Regions from separate parts of the Homo sapiens genome. Here region 1 is linked to region 2. The links come from fine-mapping of genetic effects on gene expression. Tissue or cell type: monocytes after Pam3CSK4. Region 2 holds a variant in brackets; the other region holds the start of a gene. All regions are shown on one strand. Distances are from middle to middle.

Region 1 (8,102 bases), 820 kb before region 2:
GCCTGGGCAACATAGCGAGACCCCATCTCTAAAATGACTGGCCTCTTGCACGATGTTACCACCGGGGAACCTGGTTAAACGGTACTTGGATCTCTCTGTAGGATTTCTTACAAGTGAATGTAAATCTACCATGATCTCAAAACATACAGTTTTACTTTTTTTTTTTTTTTTGAGATGGAGTCTCGCTCTGTCACCCAGGCTGGAGTGCAGTGGTGCGATCTCAGCTCACTGCAACCTCTGCCTCGTGGGTTCAAGCGATTCTCCTGCCTCAGCCTCCTGAGTAGCTGGGATTACAGGCGCGTGCCACCACGCCCTGCTAACTTTTGTATTTTCAGTAGAGATGGGGTTTCACCATCTTAGCAAGGCTGGTCTCAAACTCCCAACCTCAGGCGATCCACCTGCCTTGGCCTCTCAAAGTGCTGGGATTACAGGCGTGAGCCACCGCGCCCAGCCCAGTTTTACTTTTAAGAAAATGGACCCATGAATCCCACTTCTGGGTGGTTTTCCCACAGATGTAACTGCACTTGTACAATGAACCCTGGCCAAGGTTATTCACGGACTGGGTTGGAAGTAACCCTCAATCCATTAGTACGGGATTGTCAACTCCACACGTCCATGCAACTGAAGCGCTTTACATAGGATACAGAAAAATCTCTAGGAGGCCGGGCACCGGTGGCTCACACCTGTAATCCCAGCACTTTGGGAGGCCGAGGCAGGCTGATCATTTGAGGTCAGCAGTTCAAGATCAGCCTGGCCAACATGGCGAAACCCATCTCAAGGTGTTGACCGGGCTAGGCTCTTACTGGTAGCTCAAGGTCCTCTTCCAAGCTCTTGTGGTTGTGGCAGATTTCAGTTCCTCTTGGTTGCGGGACTGAAGTCTTCATTTCCTTGCTGCCAGCCAGAGGCTGTTCTCAGCTCCTAGAGGCCGCGTGTATTCCCTGCCCTGCAGTTCCCTCAAGGGCAGCAGTGGCGTATGTGTCCATGTGCTTCAAATCACCCTTTTTTTTTTTTTTTTTTTTTTTTTGAGACAGAGTCTCGCTCTGTCGCCCAGGATGGAGTGCAGTGGCGCGATCTTGGCTCGCTGCAAGCTCCGCCTCCCGGGTTCACGCCATTCTCCTGCCTCAGCCTCCCCAGTAGCTGGGACTACAGGTGCCCACCAAAACACCCGGCTAATTTTTTGTATTTTTAGTAGAGACGGGGTTTCACCGTGTTAGCCAGGATGGTCTCGATCTCCTGACCTTGTGATCCACCCGCCTCGGCCTCCCAAAGTGCTGGGATTACAGGCATGAGCCAGTGCGCCTGGCTCGCCCGGCTAATTTTTGTAGTTTTAGTAGAGACGGGGTTTCACCATGTTGGCCAGGCTGGTCTGGAGCTCCTGACTTCAGGTGATTCGCCAGCCTTGGCCTCCCAAAGTGCTGGGATTATAGGCATGAGCCACTGTGCCTGGCCCAAATCATCTTTACTGGCTCTTCTGCCACCAGCTGGAGACAACAGCCAGCAAGGAAACCGGGACCTTGGTCCCTGAACCACAAGTAACTGAATTCTGCCAACTAAGAGCTTGAAGGAGAGGATTCTTCTCCCAGCCCAGAGACTTTTTTTTTTTTTGAGACAGGGTCTTGCTCTGTTGCCCAGTAGCACAATCACGGCTCACTACAGCCTTGACCTCCTGGGCTCAAGCGATCCTCCCACCTCAGTCTCCCAAGTAGCTGGAACCACAGGTGCACGCCACCACGCTGGGCTAATTTTTTTATTTTCTGTAGAGATGGGGCATGAGCCACCATGCCTTGCCTGTGATACCTTTATTTATTTATTATTTATTTTTTGAGACAGAGTCTCGCTCTGTTGCCCAGGCTGGAGTGCAGTGGCACAATCTTGGCTCACTGCAACCTCCGTCTCCTGGGTTCAAGTGATTCTCCTGCCTCAGCCTCCTGAGTAGCTGGGACTACAGGCATGTGCCACCATGCCCAGCTAATTTTTGTATTTTTAGTAGAGATGAGGTTTTGCCATGTTGGCCAGGCTGGTCTCGAACTTTGACCTCAGGTGATCTGCCCGCCTCAGCCTCCCAAAATACCTTGAGTTTGGTTTTATGAAGCACACAACTGAGCTGACCCAGACTTCTGACCTACAAAGCTATGAGATAATAAATGGGTGCTGTTTTAAGCCCCTAAGCTGTGATAACTTGTTGCACTGCACATAAAATACAACATCCCAACAGATGCTCATGGGGATGGCAGACTCCCATCTCCCCTCCCTCCTTCTGTCCAGACATTTGCTTGCTCTGTAGAATAATAACAGCAGAATCTGTCGTCACTGTTTAATGCCAATACTCTCCCTTTTTATTGGTTTAGGAAGAGTCATTCAATGAGTGTAAGGTGATATAGGTGAGACCCAACCCTGCTGTCTGCTACAGAACATCTCCCTACAACAATGGATACTGTCACAGTAAGCTAGAGGGAATTTTGAACAACTCACCTCATTGGTCCCTCCTTGAGAGGCGTAAGTGAACATACACGTATATTTGTCCTAGAGAATGGAAGGAAAAAAAAGGTTTGGTAGAAGGAAATTTTTATTTTGTTTAAGAGACGGGGTCTTGCTGTCACCCAAGCTGGAGTGCAGGGGCACAATGACAGCTCACTGCAGCCTCGAACTCCCAGGTTTGAGTAATCCTCTTGCCTCAGCCTCTCAAGTAACTGAGACAATAGGTACGCAACCACCACACCCGACTAATTTTTTTTTTTTTTTTTGAAGCAGAGTCTTGTTCTGTCGCCCAGGCTGAAGTGGGATGATCTCAGCTCACTGCAACTTCTGCCTCCCGGGTTCAAACGATTCTCCTGCCTCAGCCTCCTGAGTACTTGGGATTACAGGCACCTGCTACCACACCTGGCTAATTTTTCGTATTTTTGTAGAGATGGGTTTTGCCATGGGACCTGGACAAGTGAAAACTTTTCTGAGCCTCTAGTTTCTCTCTGTTTCTCTTTTTTATGTGAAGCATTTTCTCATCTGTAACTTGGGCCTAACATATAAAGGACTTGGCATCACACCTAACTATAAGGAAGTAGTCAACAAACTGGCCTGGCACAGTGGCTCACGCCTGTAATCCCATCACTTTGGGAGGCCGAGGTGGGCGGGTCACCTGCGGTCAGGAGTTCAAGACCAGCCTGGCTAACATGGTGAAATCCCATCTGTACTAAAAATACAAAGATTAGTAGTCCCAGCTACTTGGGAGGCTGCGGCAGGAGAATGGCATGAACCTGGGAGGCAGAGGTTGCAGTGAGCCAAGATCGCGCCACTGCACTCCAGCCTGGGCGACAGAGTGAGGCTCCATCTCAAACAACAACAACAACAATTATCCGGGTGTGGTGGCACACGTCTGTAATCCCAGGTACTGGGGAGGCTGAGGCAGAAGAATTGCTTGAACCCAGAAGGCTAAGGATGCAGTGAGCCGAGATCCCGCCACTGCACGCAAGTCTAAAAAGAAATAGTCAAAAAACAGTAAAGATACTGTTATTACAGGCGGGGAAAGGGAGGCTGAGAGGGGAAAGGACTTTGCCGACAAGCTGAGTACAGGGCTGAGGGCCCGGCCTCACACCCTCGGTGAGGGGGGACCTTGTGCAATGGAAGGAAGGAGCACTTCCTCCCTCTTCGGAGCTGCAGCGACTGATTTCCTTCAGGCCCAGGAGGGCAGATGCCCTTTAGCCTCCTGCCGCTCCCATCACTGACCCCTCCCCACCTCTGCGTCTGGAGGGCAGGGGTGCCTGGACACTCCAGGCAGGCGACAGGTGACAGGTGATCACGCCCCCTCAACGCCGCCGGGGCCCACAAGGCCCCGCTCCCTATGAGTTCAGTCCTGCCCCAGTGATGACCCCGGCCTCACGGTCCCGCGCCCCCCACTCAGCCTCCGACCCTAACAATCCGCACCCCTTCTTCAGTACCCACCTCCGCGGTCCGCGCCCCCTCCTCGGGCCCCGCCCCCAATGCTCCGCGCCCCCTCCCCGGGCCTGCCAGCACTCAAATATCCGGGACGGCGGTGGCACGTACCCCCGGGCCCACGTTATGGGAGAAGGAATGCACGACGCCGCCGGGCCGCACGTCAAACGCCACCGTCGTGGGCTCGGACACCGCCTCCGCCGGCCTCAGCGCCACGGCCCCTAGGAGCAGCGCGGCCCACAAGCTCGCGCCGACGCCGTTCCACCCTCCGCTGGGCGCCGCCATGTTGGACTAGGGTCCTCAGGGCAGGGGCGGGTAGACGGGGCGCGGCGAGGGACACGTGGAGCGTCCGCCGGAGGCCACGTCGGCGTCGGCTGTCCACGTGACCCGGCACGCCCCGCCCTGTCCACCGCCCGGGGCCACCATCTTGGGGGCGGGACTTTGTCGAGGGGGCGGGACTTTTGCCGAGGGGGCGGGGCCGCCGAGGGGGCGGGGCCGCCGAGGGGGCGGCCTCGTACCCTAGGGACCCTGCGTAGCCCGGCGATCCTTGGAGGGTCCCTCAGGTGGTAATGGAGTTCGTTTTGGGGTCTCAGGGTCCCTCACCAGCCGTGTGACTGACTGCAGCTCTTTCAGTTAGGAGATGTACAGGGAGTGAGGGAAATCGAAGGTCACCATTAGGCGAACTTCTCATAATCGTTGCAGCCAAGATGTGTGTGCATCGATATTCAAAATTAGCAGAGGGAAAGTAGGATGAGAAGCAGGATGCTTGCTTTTGTTTCCCTCTTGTTGCCCAGGCTGGAGGGCAGTGGCGCGATCTCGGCTCACTGCACTCTCCGCCTCCCAGGTTCAAGTGATGCACCTGCCTCAGCCTCCCGAGTAGCTGGGACTACAGGTGTTCACCACCACCCCTGGCTAATTTTTGTATTTTTAGTAGAGACAGGTTTTCACCATGTTGGCCAGGCTGGTCTTGAGCTCCTGACCCCAAGTGATCCGCCTGCCTCGGCCTTCCAAAGTGCTGGGATTACAGGTGTGAGTCATCACGCTCGATCAGTCTGTGTATTTGTTAATAGGATTATGTGGGTGTTCACTTCCTGGCTTTGATAACCTGGCTTGTCCTAGGGGTTACAGACGATGTTCACATTAGGGGGAGTTGGATGAAGCGTATTAGGAAACCCTACAGTTTCTGCAGATTTTCTGGGAGGCAAAAATTATTTCAAAATAAAAAGTTAAAAAGAAAATAATCCCTACCTCAAGGAGTTGTTGGGAGGAGTAAGTGAGGGAATTAAGTTCCCACACCGGGACGAATGAACTGAGAATTATATATTGTAGCTATTGCTATCATTAGATCCCAGGTTTTCAACTAGAGAAGGAAGTCATTCTTTGGTTACAAATGGCTTAACATTTCAAGAAAACACCAGTGGCCAGGCCTGGGGGGTCAATAATTAAGCTGGTGTTTCTAGTCCTTCCCAACTGGCAAAAAACAGAATCCAGAGAGAAAACGTCATAGATGACTCCTAAGATGGGTTATAATTCACCCTTTGAGGAATTAAATCACTCTACTCCATAGCTACGGAGGGTGGTGAGCCCCAGGGAGGTGAGAAGGATCCCCGTGGAGGCTGACTCCTCTGCCAATGACAGAAGTCCAAGCCAGTTGCCTTTCTGCAGTGGCAGCCTGTTCTAAATTGGGATACCTGCTTGCGTTAGGAAATTTATTGGCCGGGCGTGATACTTCATGCCTGTAATTCCAACCCTTCGGGAGGCCAAGGTGGGTGGATTGCTTGACCTCAGGAGTTCTAGACCATTCTGGGCAACATAGTGAGACCCCATTCCTATATATATATTCATATATTCACATATGTGAATATATATATTCATATATTCACATATGTGAATATATATATTCATATATTCACATATGTGAATATATATATTCATATATTCACATATGTGAATATATATATTCATATATTCACATATGTGAATATATATTCATATATTCACATATGTGAATATATATTCATATATTCATATATACTTATATATTCATATATTCATATATACTTATATATTCATATATATGAATATATATTCATATATTCATATATATGAATATATATTCATATATTCATATATACTTATATATATATTCATATATTCATATATACTTATATATATTCATATATTCATATATATGAATATATATTCATATATATGAATATATATATTAATATATTCATATATATATACTTATATTCATATATTCATATATATACTTATATTCATATATTCATATATATACTTATATTCATATATTCATATATATACTTATATATATTCATATATTCATATATATACTTATATATATTCATATATTCACATATATACTTATATATATTCATATATTCATATATATACTTATATATATATATATTTAAAGATATTTTAAGATTATTTTTTAAAGATAGCCGGACATGGTGGTGGGCGCCTGTAATCCCAGCTACCTGGGAGGCTGGGGCAGGAGAATCTTTTGAACCCAGGAGGCATAGGTTACGGTGAGCTGAGATCATGCCACTGCACTCCAGCCTGGGTCCCAGAGCAAGACTCCGTCTTAATAAATAAAGAAATAAACAAACAAATCTCTTCCTCCATGCAGCTGTCTGTTCTGGACCCATGAGACACTGTCTCCATAAACTGGACAAGCACAGAGCAGCCCTGTTCCTTAGGTGAGTGACACAGCACGGTTCCACTGATGGAGTCCCCATTACCTTACCACGGTGTTCAACTTTCAGCCTGTCACCATGAAGGATTCGATGCATGGCCGAGCTCTGCGGCTAACAAGGAATTTCAGTTGTGAGCTGTTGGGAGTCTGCTACGGAACCCAGGCAGGTTGTGCGTATGCGTGTGCATGCGTGTGTGTGTTCTTTCCAGAAAGGTTTCGGCCCCAAGTTTCACCCACCCACCACAAATCATCACACTAAAAGGATTAAAAGAAAAAACAAGGCTGGCCCCAGTACTTTGGGAGGCAGATCACTTTGAGCTCAGGAGTTTAAAAACTGCCTGGGCAAGATGGCAAGACACCGTCCCTATAAAAAATACAAAAACATTAGCTGGGCATGATGGCTTGTGCCTGTAGTCCCACTTACTTGGGAGGCTGAGGCCAGAGGATGACTTGAGCCATGGAAGCAGAGGTTGCAGTGAGCTGAGATTACACCACTGCACTCCAGCCTGGGTGACAGAGCGAAACCCTGTGTCCAAAAAAAAAAAAAAAAAAAGGAAAGAAAGAAAAAGAAAAGAAAACAAGGCTGGACACAGTGGCTCTTGTAATCTCAACACTTTGGGAGGCCAAGGTGGGAGGATCACTTGAGCCCAGGAGGTCGAGGTTGCAGTAAGCTGTGATTATACCACTGCATTCCTGCCTGGGTGACAGAGGAGCAAACAACAAATTATTCCACGGATCCCACTAATCATGATATGAAATCTGTCAGTCCTAAAGGACAAGATTCGATCACACAAATATTAGATTATTTATTTATTTTTTTTTTTAAATTTGAGACAAGGTCTTGCTCTGTCGCCCAGGCTGAAATGCAGTGGTAGTTTCAGCTCCCTACAGCCTTAACCTCCTGGGCTCAAATGATCCTCCCACTCAGCCTCCCAAGTAGCTGGGATTACAAGGCATGCAACACTCACCCAGCTATTATTATTATTATTTTTTTGTAGTGATGGGGTTTATGCCATGTTGCTGTGGCTAGTCTCAAACTCCTGTGCTCAAATGATTCACCCACCTTGGCCTCCCAAAGTGCTGGCATTATAGGTGTGAGCCACTGTGCCTGGCCTCCTTTTTGTGTGTGTGTGTGTCTGTGTGAGACAGGGTCTCACTCTGTTGCCCAGGCTGGAGAAACCTCCTCAGCTCACTGCAACCTCCTCCTCCTCCAGGGCTCAAGTGATCCTCCCACTGCAGCCTCCTGAGTAGCTGGGACTACAGGCGTGCACCATTGCGCTGGGCTAATTCTTCAATTTTTAGTCGAGATGGGGTTTCACCATATCGCCCAGGCTGGTCTCAAACTCCTGGGTTCAAGTGATCTGCTGGCCTCAGCCTCCCAAAGTATTGCGATTACAGGCGTGAGCCACCACACATGGCCTTTTTTTTTTTGAGGCTGATCTCAAATGCCTGGGCT
Region 2 (8,102 bases):
CAGTTCCTTCTATGATCTCACCATTATTACATGGGGGAAGATTTCTCTCTCTCTTTTTTTTTTTTTTAAGAGACAAGGTCTTGCTCTGTCACCCAGGCTGGAGTAGTACAACGGCACGATCATAGCTCACTGAAGCCTCGAACTCCCAATCTCAAGTGATCCTCCTGCCTCAGCTTCCTGGGTCGCTGGGACTGCAGATGTGCACCACCATACCTGGCTAATTTTCTTTTTTTTTTTTTTTTTTTTTTTTTTAGACAGAGTCTCACTCTGTCGCCCAGGCTGGAGTGCAGTGGCGCAATCTCGACTCACTGCAAGCTCCACCTCCTGGGTTCACGCCATTCTCCTGCCTCAGCCTCCCAAGTAGCTGGGACTACAGGCGCCCGCCACCACACCAGCTAATTTTTTGTATTTTATATTTTTAATAGAGACAGGGTTTCACCGTGTTAGCCAGGATGGTCTCGATCTCCTGACCTCGTGATCCGCCCACCTCAGCCTCCCAAAGTGCTGGGATTATATTTATTTATGTATTTATTTATTTTTGAGATGGAGTCTTGCTCTGTCGCCCAGGCTGGAGTGCAGTGGCGCAATCTCGGCTCACTGCAAGTTCTGCCTCCCGGGTTCACACCATTCTCCAGCTTCAGCCTCCCGAGTAGCTGGGATCACAGGTGTGCACCACCACACCCAGCTAATTTTTGTATTTTCACGGAGATGAGGTTTCACCGTGTTGGCCAGGCTTATCTCAAACTCCTGACCTCAGGTGATCTGCCTGCCTCCGCCTCCCAAAGTGCTGGGATTACAGGCATGAGCCACCACGCCCGGCCTACCTGGCTAATGTTTAAATTTTTTGCAGAGATGTGTTCTGCCGGGAAAAAAAAAAAAGACACACCTTTACGTTGCCCAGGCTGGTTTCAAACTCCTGACCTGAAGTCATCCTTCCACTCAGCTTCCCAAAGTGCTGGGATTATAGGCACGAGCCGCTGTGTACTTGCCATCGTGGGGGGATTTTATATCCCAGACACCCAGAACTGCCCCTTAGCTTCTGTTTTTTTTTTTTGTTGTTGTTTTTTTTTTTTAGACACAGTCTTGCCCTGCACGTCAGGCTGGAGTGCAGTGGTGCCACCTCGGCTCACTGCAACCTCTGCTTCCCCGGTTCAAGCAATTCTCCTGCCTCAGCCTCCCAAGTAGCTGGGATCACAGGTGTGCACCACCACACCCAGCTAATTTTTGTATTTTCACAGAGATGAGGTTTCACCGTGTTGGCCAGGCTTGTCTCAAACTCCTGACCTCAGGTGATCTGCCTGCCTCCGCCTCCCAAAGTGTTGGGATTACAGGCGTGAGCCACTGCGCCCAGCCTGAAAGCATCATCTTTTCTTTTTTCCTTCCATAGCATTTCTCACCTTCTAACACACCCTGCCACATACCTACTTGTCACTGTATTCCACGGGCTCTGAGATGCCGTCAAATATAAGATGCACCTTTGGGTCAGGCACGGTGACTCACGCCTGTAATCCCAGCACTTTGGGAGGCCAAGGTGGGTGGATCACCTGAGGTTGGGAGTTCGAGACCAGCCTGACCAACATGGAGAAACCCCGTCTCTACTAAAACTACAAAATTAGCCGGGCATGGTGGCGCATGCCTGTAATCCCAGCTACTCGGGAGGTTGAGGCAGGAGAATTGCTTGAACCCGGGAGGCGGAGCTTGCAGTGAGCCGAGATTGCGCCACTGCACTCCAGCCTGGGCGACAGAGTGAGATTCTGTCTCAGAAAAAAAAAAAAAAAAACCATAAAAAATTTAAAAAACGTTTTCAATTGCTATCTCATTTCATCATCACCATCATCACGTTGTACAGATGGGGAAACTGAGGCCCCCAAAGGGACAGAGGGTTTTTCAAAGCCACCGATCAAGTCTGAAATCGACTCCCCTGTCCTGAGGTTTGTCTCCGCCCTGCAGCCTCCATCCCCCAGTTCCAAATCAGGGCACCCCGGACATTCCAGGACTGGCTTCACCCTGACATCGAGCTCTGGCCGAGCTCCCTCGTTTGGTGAAAATCTAATCACGCCAGCCTGAATGCTGACATCGAAATGACTGCCGAGCCCTTGACTCGGGGTAATTAGGAGCATTTTGGGATGCCTTGCTTGATTAAAAGCAGATCACCCGTTCAGAATGAAAATTCAGGAGGCAGATTGCTTTTGTTGTTGCCACGATGCTATTTTAAACCCACGCAGCTCTCCAGCTAATAAAGACCCGTCAATCGGCTGTCGGGGTGTTCAGGACGAACTGTCTGCAGGGTTCCCCCACTGCTGTTTACCACAGCACCACAGCCCAGAGGGACCCCTGTCAGGACATCAGAGCCAGCAGGGTGCAGGTTGACCTCAGTGTCACTCCCAAACCTCTCAGGGTTACTCCCCGTGTCTGCCTGGTCCCTGAACCAGAAAGTCAGATGTCGACCTGGTCTCTTCTCGCCCTCATCCCCTCCCCAGATCCTATCCCACCTGTCCCCAGGACCCCCTCCTGCCCGGATTCCAGTTCCTGGCTCCTCCCTGGCCTCTAGCCTCCCATCCGTCCTCCCCAGAAAGCTCCTTTTTTTTTTTTTTTTGAGACAGGGTCTCGTTCTGTCACCCATGCTGGAGTGCAGTGGCAAGATCTTGACTCACTGCAGCCTCGACCTCCTGGGCTCAGGTGATCCTCACACCTCAGCCTCCAGAGTAGCTGGGACCATAGGTGCATGTGCCACCATGCCTCATTTTTGTACCTTTTTGTATAGACAGGGTTTCACTATGTTGCCCAGGCTGGTCTCGAACTCCTGGGCTCAAGTGAGCCTCCTGCCTCAGCCTCCCAAAGTGCTGGGATTACAGGTGTGAGCCATCGCACCCAGCCCCAAGAAGGCTCCTTCTAAGGTTTGCTCAGCCTCCCTGTGCTTTGACTTCACCCAATGAACCACTTCTTATTCTTCCAGACTCAGTCACCTCCTCTGACCTCCAGGCTGGCCCAGAGACCCCCTCTTTTCTCTAATCACCCAGGTCGGAACCACCCTTTCCTGGGTCCGCCTCCTGCCTGGACTGTGAGCCATGTGTGGATGGGGTCAGGTC[T/C]GTGGTGCTCACTGATGGTTCTCCAGAGCCCAGCACAGGTTCGGGCACCAGGAAAGGGAGGTAAATATTGATGAATGTGGGTCCGGGCATGGTGGCTCACGCCTGTAATCCCAGCACTTTGGGAGGCCGAGGCGGGCAGATCACTTGAGGTCAGGAGTTCAAGACCAGCCTGGCCAATATAGCGAAACCCCATCTCTACTAAAAACACAAAAATTAGCCAGGCTTGGTGGCATGCACCTGTAATCCCAGCTACTCGGGAGGCTGAGACAGGAGAATCACTTGAGCCCAGGAGGCGGAGGTTGCACTGAGCTGAGATCGCGCCACTGCACTCCAGCCTGGGCAACAGAGACTCCAGTAAAAAAAATAAATAAATAAAAATAAAAATACTGATGAATGAAGGAATGAATGCATGCATGCATTGGGGTGGGAGGTACTAGGAACACCCTGGATCTCAAGGTATCGGGACCTCAAATGGCCCATCTCTCTGCCCTGAAGCACCCCCTTCTGCCAGTCTAGGTCCTGACCTGCACCCCAGCCAGGGGGAGGGACAGAGGCCTCCCTCAGAGACTCAGCCTTCAGCTCATGATTTCCCCAGCAGAGGAAGGGACAGGACAGCCCCTTAGCCTGACCCCTTCCCCACCCCAACCCCCAAAGACACCAATATGTCCACATCACATAGATGCAGGCATTCTGTCCGACCCCAGGAACAGATAATCCAATGCCGGGGAGAGGATGGGGGTGGGCTCCAGGGCTGGGCTCCCTGTTTTTCAGGGGCCAGTGGCTGGGCATGGAGTTGGACGACAGAGAAGGCCCTGGAGGCCAAGGGAAAGGATTCCAGCAGAAGATGCGGGGGAGGGCTGCAGTGGGAAGTCTGTCCTGTAGTCTAACCTTGGGCCGGGGAGTGATGTAACACAGCGGTTCTCCTTGTGGGTGATTCTGCCCCCCAAGGGACACTTGACCATGTCTGGGGGTATTTGTGCTTGTCACCTCTCCGTAGCGGGGGTGTGCTGCTGGTATCCAATGGGTGGAGGCCAGCGATGCTGTGGCACAACCTAAAACGCACAGGACACTCCCCACCTCAGAGAGTAACACAGCCCCAGATATCAGCCATGCCATCCGGGCGCGGTGGCTCACGCCTGTAATCCCAACACTTTGGGTGGCTGAGGTGGGAGGATGGCTTGAGCCCAGGAGTTTGCGACCAGCCTAGGCAACATGGTGAAACCACATCTCTACAAAAGGAAAAAAGTACAAAAAATTAGCTGGGTGTGGTGGTGCATGCCTGTGGTCCCAGCTACTCGGGAGGCTGAGGCAGGAGAATCGCTTGAACCCAGGAGGCGGAGGTTGCAGTGAGCTGAGATCATGCCACTGTACTCCAGCCTGGGCCACAGAGTGAGCCTCCATCTCAAAAAGAAAAAAGGCCGAAGGGGAGAGCATCTAATGTCAGCTAACACTTAGGGACACCCACTCTGGCCCAGGCTTTTCTGGGGGCTGCTTGACCACCCTAACTTCCCGTGAGGTGTGCATGAACATCATTCCATTTCCAGATGTGGAAAACCGAGGCCCACAGCAGCAAAGCCACAGCCCCAAGGTCGCACGGTGTGTTTGAAGGTCAGCCACACGGGGGCAAGGAATTTTGTTTCTGGCTAATTCACTGCTGGGTCCTTGGGGTCCTAGAATCAGGCCTGGCACATAGCAGGTGCTCAGGAAACACTGAATGAATGAATGAATGAATGAATGAATGAATGAATAGCAGAGCTGGGATTCAGACCCAAGCTGGTGGATGCCAGAGCCCCCCACTCGCAGCCCTGGGCTCGGAGGGGGGGACTTCTGCTGCCCTTTATGTCCCTGCAACCCCCTGGACTGCTGAGCCCCACGGGCCAGGCGCTGTCAGGATCCTGGAGGCCGCAGCTGATGTTTAAAGTCCCTATTGTGGTTCCTGAAAAAGGAGCAGGTGTTGGCAGCTTGGCTTCGCCAAGGAGGCCCTGCGGCCGGCGCCTTTGTCCCTTGAGCTGGTAAAATCCTCTGCTCGGCCGCTCCATTCAACCCACTCAATTCCACGTTCCACTTTCACCCCCGTCCACATTCTTCGCCTGCAAATCCCCCATTCTGAGCGGCTGGGCCCAAAAGGCGGGCGTCTTTGTTCGTCTTTTCTTGTCCTCCTCTGCCCGTTAATCTAATCGCTTCCTCTCTGAGATGCGGGAGGAAGGAGAAGGGAGGGAGGAAAATAAACAAATACTGAGGGTAAAAGAAAAGATTCGCCGAGGTTTCCATTGAAGGGGATTTCGCCTGCCACTTTGAGATATTGACAAAGGCTGGTGGGGGGCGAGGGGAGGCTTGCGGCGGGGAAGTCGGGCACTGGGCGGGTGGACCTGGCTCCCGGCGCTGCATTGAGATATTCAGAAAAACAAATTCATCTGGCCTGTCTTCCTGACAGTTTGACTGCCAGACACTGGTAAGTCCAGGCCAGGGGAGACAGCTGTCAACCATCCCGAGCTGAAGAGTTTGGGAAGGAAGGCAGAGACCAACGGGGCCCATTCCCCTCTCTCTCCCCGATTTGCTGTGTGACCTTGAGGGACATGCCTGCTGTCTCTGTGCCTTGTCACTAAGAAGCGGCCCTTTATGTCCCCACTTTGGAGGGATGGAGGATTCAGGGGTGCTCAGAGAGTGAAAGGTGTTTGCACAAGTTTACCCAATGCTGCCGAAGCAAACTCCTGGTTTAGGGCCCCTTCCCAGGACGAGGGAGGAGGGGAGAGGGCTAGAGGCTGGTCAGAGGGTCCAGATGGAGCTCAAAAGCCGTCAACCCAATGTCATCCCACAGGGATTCCCAGGTGACTGAGGGACCCTCTTCTGTCTGAGTCCTCGGCCTTTTCTGTATACTAATAATCTTGTTTTTCTTTTTCTTTTTTGAGATGGAGTCTCCCTCTGTCACCCAGGCTGAAGTGCAGTGGTGTGATCTCGGCTCACTGCAACCTCTGTCTCCTGGGTTCCAGCGATTCTCCTGCCTCAGCCTCCTGAGTAACTGGGCTTACAGGCACCTGCCACCACGCCTGGCTAATTTTTGTATTTTTAGTAGAGACAGGTTTTTGCCATGTTGGCCAGGCTGGTCTCAAATGCCTGGCCTCAAGTGATTTGCCTGCCTCGGACTCCCAAAGTGCTGGTGCTGGGATTACAGGCGTGAGCCACCACGTCCGGCCAAGACGCTATTTCTTTAAAAAAAAAAAAAAAATCAGCAGGTGTTGTGGTGTGTGCCTGTGGTACCAGTTACTCAGGAGGCTGAGGTGGGAGGATCACTTGAGCCTGGGAGGTCAAGACTGCAGTGAGCCATGATCGTGCTACTGCACTCCAGCCTAGGCAACAGAGTGAGACCTTGTCTCTATTTAAAAAAAAAAAAAATAGATGATGGCCAGGCACAGTAGCTCACTCCTGTAATACCAGCACTTTGGGAGGCCGAGGAGGGCTGATCTCTTGAGATCAGGAGTTTGAGACCAGCCTGGCCAACATAGTACAACCCCGTCTCTACTAAAACTACAAAAAAATTAGCCGGGCGTGGTGCCACACACCTGTAATCCCAGCTACTCAGGAGGCTGAGGCAGGAGAACAGCTTGAACCCCAGAGGCAGAGGTTGCAGTGAGCCGAGATCGCGCCACTGCACTCCAGCCTGGACAACAGGGCGAGACTCCATCTCAGAAAAAAAAAGAAAAAGAAAAAGGCCGGGTGCAGCAGCTGACGCCTGTAATCCCAGCACTTTGGGAGGCCGAGGTGGGCAGATCACCTGAGGTCAGGAGTTTGAGACCAGCCTGGCCAACATGGTGAAACCCCATCTCTACTAAAAATACAAAACTTAGCTGGGCGTGGTAGGGGGGTGGGCGTCTATAATCCCAGCTACTTGGGAGGCTGAGGCAGGAGAATCACTTGAACCCAGGAGGCAGAGGTTGCAGTAAGCCGAAATCACGCCATTGCACTCCAGCCTGGGCGACAAGAGCAAGACTCGGACTTAAAAAAAAAAAAAAATGCATGAAAAGCCCAAGGTTTGGTGCATAAAGAGATGGCAGAAATCAAAGTCTCAGAGATTTCGTGCAAAACTTGCCCCCAAAGGATCCTGCAATCCCACCCCTAGGCTTTTATTTTCTTTGATGATACACGTGCCTGTGTCCCTGGGTGGGGAATCTTGCTATTGTTAGGAAATGAAACGCCACCGCCTGAGCTTGATTGCGTTCTTCCCACCCCCGCTGCCCAGGATCCACTCACAATGGGGGACGGGGGACGTGGGGGGCACGGAAGCCCCAACACGGGAGGTGGAATTAATCACAGCACCATACATGGGAGGTGCCTCAATTGTTGCAATCTATGTAATGAGAGAAAAACAAAAATGACTGCTTCCCTGAGGAATTAGAGGGAGGCGTTTTCCATTAGGGTTTTGTTGATGAAAAAGGACACGATTAGAGAAAATCCTGTTGTTGGCAGGGCCCTGGTCCCGGGTTCGAGCCAGAGAGGGGCACTCCAAGGAAACGGTGTCTGGGGCCGGGAGCAGGGCTCACGCCTATAATTCCAGCACTTTGGGGGGCCGAGACGGGCGGATCACAAGGTTAGGAGTTTGAGAACAGCCTGGCCAACATAGTGAAATGCTGTCTCTACCAAAAATACAAAAATTAGCCAGGCGTGGTGGCGGGCGCCTGTAGTCCCAGCTACTCGAGAGGTTGAGGCAGGAGAATCTCTTGAACCTGGGAGGCAGAGGTTGCAGTGAGCTGAGATCGCGCCACTGCACTCCAGCCTGGGTGACAGAGCAAGACTCTGCCTCAAAAATAAATAAATACAAAAATACAAAAATTAGCTGGGCACGGTGGCTCACACCTGTAATCCCAGCACTTTGGGAGGTGGAGGCAGGCGGATCACTTGAGGTCAGGAGTTTGAGACTAGCCTGGCCAACATGGCGAAACCCCATCTCTACTGAAAATATAAAAATTAGTAGGGTGTGCTGGCACACACCTGTAATCCCAGCTACTCAGGAGGCTG

Evidence for each region. PIP is the estimated chance that this variant, and not a neighbour inherited with it, causes the effect. A credible set is the group of variants that fine-mapping cannot tell apart.
Region 1: MYDGF starts here. The variant in region 2 is the best candidate, but not a certain one, in a credible set for the expression of MYDGF in monocytes after Pam3CSK4 (Quach 2016, PIP 0.85).

Annotation. Positions count from the first base shown.
Region 1 is chr19:4,666,123-4,674,224 of GRCh38, forward strand. MYDGF (myeloid derived growth factor) reads right to left here and starts at 4,220. Exons shown (of 6, transcript NM_019107.4): 1 at 4,039-4,220; 2 at 2,473-2,523. The coding sequence starts at 4,212. RefSeq lists a silencer at 4,220-4,609.
Region 2 is chr19:5,487,660-5,495,761 of GRCh38, forward strand. No RefSeq gene overlaps it. Among named protein-coding and RNA genes, the nearest start is that of ZNRF4, 36 kb to the left of the region's middle. The variant T/C (reference allele first, on the strand shown) is at 3,090.